2 separate regions of the Homo sapiens genome follow, and region 1 is linked to region 2. A link means that fine-mapping ties the variant in region 2 to the expression of a gene that starts in the linked region. Tissue or cell type: whole blood. Region 2 holds a variant in brackets; the other region holds the start of a gene. All regions are shown on one strand. Distances are between the middles of the regions.

What was found. PIP is the estimated chance that this variant, and not a neighbour inherited with it, causes the effect.
Region 1: HEXIM1 starts here. The variant in region 2 is fine-mapped to the expression of HEXIM1 in whole blood (INTERVAL, PIP 0.92).

Annotation. Positions count from the first base shown.
Region 1 is chr17:45,146,983-45,149,596 of GRCh38, forward strand. HEXIM1 (HEXIM P-TEFb complex subunit 1) reads left to right here and starts at 1,493. Exons shown (of 1, transcript NM_006460.3): 1 at 1,493-2,614. The coding sequence starts at 2,209. RefSeq lists enhancers at 596-1,478, 1,882-1,931, 1,982-2,031, 2,082-2,191, 2,596-2,614.
Region 2 is chr17:45,172,479-45,175,229 of GRCh38, forward strand. No RefSeq gene overlaps it. Among named protein-coding and RNA genes, the nearest start is that of HEXIM2-AS2, 2.4 kb to the left of the region's middle. RefSeq lists enhancers at 1-774, 775-1,732. The variant A/G (reference allele first, on the strand shown) is at 1,088.

The DNA of each region.
Region 1 (2,614 bases), 26 kb before region 2:
CAAACGTGCTGGAATGTCAGGGATGCTATTAAGGAAGCAATAAGAAGAAAGGGTCACTGGGTGTGTGGCGAAGGAGAAGTGGAAAGGGCGCCAAGATTTTAGGCCTCAGTGACTGGTATGGAGGGTTCTCTGGGTCCTCTCAGTCCCTGTTTATGGAGGGCTGGGGGCTTGGGTCTAGAGAATTTCTCTCTGAGAAACTACGCCCCCGGGGGAATCGGCCCCCCCAGCCCTGCGCCAGAATCCCCTGCAGCAAGTTTCGGAGCAAGGCCTCCTCCATGCTTCCCTCCCAGTCTTGCCCAGCGCCCACTGATGAGGAAGGGCCTCTGCGGGTGAGACCTGCTTCCCTCTCGGATAGCCAGGGCTGATGATTTCAACTCATTAATCATTCCGAACTCTTCCCAACAAACAGCCTCATGGCTGTCCCGGACCTCCTCTGTCCCGGCTCAGGAAATGATCTCGGTCGGAAGTGAAAAGACCAAATCGGCCCCAGGAGGCCATTTTCTTCGACAGAAGCTGAGGCGTGGGGGCGTGGCCTTCCCCCGCTTCCCCCTCCACTCCCCCGCCCGCCCCCGGCCCCGGCTTTCCGATCTCGGCCCAGGGAAGAGCCTTGGTCGCGAATCACCAGTTTGCATTTGCCCCTGGGGCGGGGGCGGCTTTCTGAGACCAGGCTGGGGCTGGGACTCCGCCACCTTCAGCTAAGGGTACCGAGGTCAGTCCGGGAGTCGCGTCACCGGGACTCGAACCCGCCTCTTCGTCTTCCGAGGCCTAGTGCGAGCCTGCGGCGCTAAACGCAGTCACACTGTCCCTTTAAGGCGGCACTTTTTATTCTTCATTTGTTTACTTCTTCATGCGCTCTTCGGTCTTTACAAAATGTGCTCGCGATATCCTTCCGCAAGTGTCAGTCTCAGGCACTCACCACCCGCCTTGAAGCCATTTCTATAATCTTAAGACTCGCGAGTTAGCAGCCGTGGGCCGACGTCTCTCTTTATAGGATTTAATTCTTTTACATTTTAGGGACTACTTTTTAGGAATAAACCATTCTTGCGTTAGTTAATAAAGGTTCATAACCTTCGGAACCCCTCCGCTGAGAACAAAATACGATAATAGCCTTTATAACGCACCTTTTCATAAAAATATTCTGTGAGGACTCTCATAGGCCATCGAATCTTCTCGTATTCCTGAAACAGAATGGTACGGTCCAGAACCCGCCCCATCTTCTCTGCGATTGGCCGTCCTTCCTCAGCGAGTCGTGTGATTTTTCACCAATGGCCGCTCGCGTTTCTTTAGCGAGGTCTAAGCGATGGAAGGTGGCGGCCAGGGAGACGCCCCCTACGCGTCCTGGGATTGGCTACGTCGCACGGCGCGCGAGGGCGGCGGGCCCGAAAGATAAGAACTACGACTCCCGGCGCCCCGCAAAGGGAACTCCGTTACGCATGCGCACGGGCGGGGCGAAAAAGCTTCTATATAAAAGGGGCGCAGAGGACTGGGAGACAGCAGTTGGAAGTTGGCAGGTGGAGAGGCAGGTTGGGAGGGAAAGTCGGGGGAGGACGCGGAAGAGGAGCTGTGGGAAGGGGGAGGAGGGAGGGAGGAAAAGAGGAGGAGGCGGAGGAGAACTGAGCAGAGCAGAGCATCGAGCCAAAGGGGAGATGAGTTTGTCTGTCCTCTGCTGAGGCTACGGCCGGGCCTAGGGAACTGGGAGCTTGGGTGGAAGCGACACCCGTGGAAGTGGGAGGAGGTGGCGCCGGGACTTTAACCCCTTGTGGGCTCTGCGGCAGGGGATTTAACCCTTTGTGGATCTGGCCCCTCGGAGGCAGCGTCATCGGTAGTTTTAACCCCTTCGGGGCTGGGTTTCACGCACTGGACTTACCCTCATCACCTTGCTCACCAACTCCTTTATTGGGGTGCTCCGCTTGGAGGTTTGAGGCCCACCTCCGCCCATTACGTACTGTTCCTGCCGCTGCACCCCCTTGGACCCGCTAGCTGGCCGCACTGTGGGCGCTTAACCCTTTACTGACTTGAGCTCCCCAGATTGCAGTTGGAGTTTGCTGATAGAAGGACTAGCTAAAGGCGTCACTGCAGGAATTACAAACTGAAGAGGACTCTGTTGGACTGTTTTTTTTTTCTTTTTCTTTTTTTTAAGAAAAACCCATTTTTTTCCTTAAGGACTTACTAGCCAAAATTTCTTAAACTTCGAGGACTCTACTAGCCATGGCCGAGCCATTCTTGTCAGAATATCAACACCAGCCTCAAACTAGCAACTGTACAGGTGCTGCTGCTGTCCAGGAAGAGCTGAACCCTGAGCGCCCCCCAGGCGCGGAGGAGCGGGTGCCCGAGGAGGACAGTAGGTGGCAATCGAGAGCGTTCCCCCAGTTGGGTGGCCGTCCGGGGCCGGAGGGGGAAGGGAGCCTGGAATCCCAACCACCTCCCTTGCAGACCCAGGCCTGTCCAGAATCTAGCTGCCTGAGAGAGGGCGAGAAGGGCCAGAATGGGGACGACTCGTCCGCTGGCGGCGACTTCCCGCCGCCGGCAGAAGTGGAACCGACGCCCGAGGCCGAGCTGCTCGCCCAGCCTTGTCATGACTCCGAGGCCAGTAAGTTGGGGGCTCCTGCCGCAG
Region 2 (2,751 bases):
AGGGAGAGGGGTAGGCAGAGATTGGTGGGCTGGGGCAGGAAGAAGCTGCCAGGGAGTGGGGGGAGGGGGTCCAAAGGGAAGTAACGGTATTGGGGGGAAAGGTGGCCAGGTCCCATTGCCCTTGTTGGGAACAGGCAAGTGTGGCACTGGCCCTTTAAGTGGGGGTGCCAGTCAGTGCCCTCCCCCAACCAACCCAATTCATGGGCACACTGAGCATGTGCAGGGGCTGTGCATGTGGGGAGGGGAGGAGAGGGGAGGGGAGAGGGGGGCATACATTCCGGAGGGAGCTTCTCATCCCCCTACTTCCGGTAGCTGCCCCCACTCTCCTTCCTGGGTCTGACAAAGGAGCCCATGGTGCTCACCCAATCCCTTCCCCCACCCCAGGCCCCAGGGGGTGCTGCCCTCTGCAAGTGCTGAAGCTGCCATGGGTGCTGGGCAGGCCCTCTCTGCCCTGGGGAGTCTCCTGGCCGCCTGGAGGTGGCACACATGCAGCCCAGTGCCGGCCTCACTTCCCTGGTGTGGGCGGCGGCGAATCTTCCTGCTGCCTACGTGTTCCATTTCATTCCATTGGTGCCAGGGTTTTTAAAAGAACCATCCACCTGTGATGCCACTTTGAAAGTGAAACAGCTCAAAGGATGCAGGCCCTACCCCCTAACCAGGACCTTCCAGTCAGAGAGGAAGCAAACAGCCCAGAGGCTGCAAGGGCCTTCCTTGAATCCCGCTCCTTCTGCTTCTCCCCTGCTGGCCAAGGGATCAAAGTCAGCTTCCTCCAGACTACCTTCACCTGCAGCCTGGGACCTTCCCTCAAACCTTTCCACCACCTAAACCTTACCTGTTTCTGCCAAGTCTTCCCCTCTCCCAGCCCTCAGCCCCTCCTGTTACCACCCCTACCTCTTTAGCACTTGTCCACTCTTAGCTACTGGTACCATTCTTTTTATTTTTTATTTATTTATTTTTTTTTGAGACAGAGTCTCACTGTTGCTCAGGCTGGAGTGCAGTGGTGCGATCTCAGCTCACTGCAACCTCTGCCCCCCCAGGTTCAAGCAATTCTCCTGCCTCAGCCTCCCGAGTAGCTGGGATTACGGGC[A/G]CCTGCCACGACGCCCAGCTTATTTTTGTATTTTTAGTAGAGACGGGTTTACATCCTGTTGGCCAGGCTGGTCTCAAAAACTCCTGACCTCAGGTGATCTGCCCATCTCAGCCTCCCAAAGTGCTGGGATTATAGGCATGAGCCACCATGCCCAGCTTATTTTTCATTCTTTTTTTGTTTGTTGTTTTGGTTTTTGAGACGCAGTTTCACTCTTGTTGCCCAGGCTGGAGTGCAATGGCGCAGTCTCAGCTCACTGCAACCTCCGCCTCCCAGGTTCAAGCAATTCTCCTGCCTCAGCCTCCGATGTAGCTGGGATTACAGGTGCCCGCCACCATGCCCAGCTAGTTTTTGTATTTTTAGTAGAGACAGAGTTTCAGCCTGTTGGCCAGGCTGGTCTCAAAAACTCCTGGCCAGGCGCAGTGGCTCACGCCTGTAATCCCAGCACTTTGGGAGGCTGAGGTGGGCGGATCACGAGGTCAGGAGATCGAGACCATCCTGGCTAACACTGTGAAACACTGTCTCTACTGAAAATACAAAAAAATAACCGGGTGTGCTGGCGGGCGCCTGTAGTCCCAGCTACCGGGAGGCTGAGGCAGGAGAATGGCATGAACCTGGGAGGCGGAGCTTGCAGTGAGCCGAGATCGCGCCACTGCACTCCAGCCTGGGCGACAGAGCCAGACTCCGTCTCAAAAAAAAAAAAAACAAAAAACTCCTGACCTCAGGTGATCCGTCCACCTTGGCCTCCCAAAGTGCCAGGATTAAAGGCGTGAGCCACCGCACCCAGCCTATTTTTCATTCTTGAAGTGAAATTTACATGCCACAAAATCACCCCTTTAAAAGTGAACAAAGGGCGGGTGTGGGTGGCTCATGCCTGTAATCCCAGCACTTTGGGAGGCTGAGGTGGGCGGATTACCTGAGGTCAGGAGTTCGAGACCAGCCTGGCCAACAGGGTGAAACCCCATCTCTACTAAAAAATATAAAAATTAAGTCAGGCACGCTGGCTCACACCTGTAATCCCAGCACTTTGGGAGGCCAAAGCAAGTGGATCATGAGGTCAGTAGTTTGAGACCAGCATGACCAACATGGTGAAACCCCGTCTCTACTAAAAATACAAAAATTAGCCGGGTGTGGTGGCGTGCACCTGTAATCCCAGCTACTCAGGAGGCTGAGGCAGGAGAATCACTTGAACCCGGGAGGTGGAGGTTGCAGTGAGCTGAGATCGCACCACTGCACTCCAGCCTGGGCAGCAGAGTGAGACTCCGTCTCAAAAAAACAAAAAAAAAAAAAAAGAAAAAAGAAAAAAAATTAGTTGAGCGTGGCGGCATGTGCCTATAATCCCAGCTTCTTGGGAGGCTGAGGCAGGACAATCTCTTGAACCCAGGAGGCGGAGGTTGCAGTGAGCCGAGATCGCACCACTGTACTCCAGCCTGGGCGACAGAGCGAGACTCCTTTTAAAAAAAAAAAAAAAGAAAAGAAAAAAAGTGAATAAGGCCAGGGCATGGTGGCTCACATGTGTAATCCCAGCACTTTGAGAGGCCCAGGTGGGAAGATTGCTTGAGCCCGAGTTCGAGACCAACCTGTGCAACATGATGAGACCCTGTCTCTACCAAAAAAAAAAAAAAACAACCAAACAAAACATTCAGGTGTGTTGGTGCACATCTGTA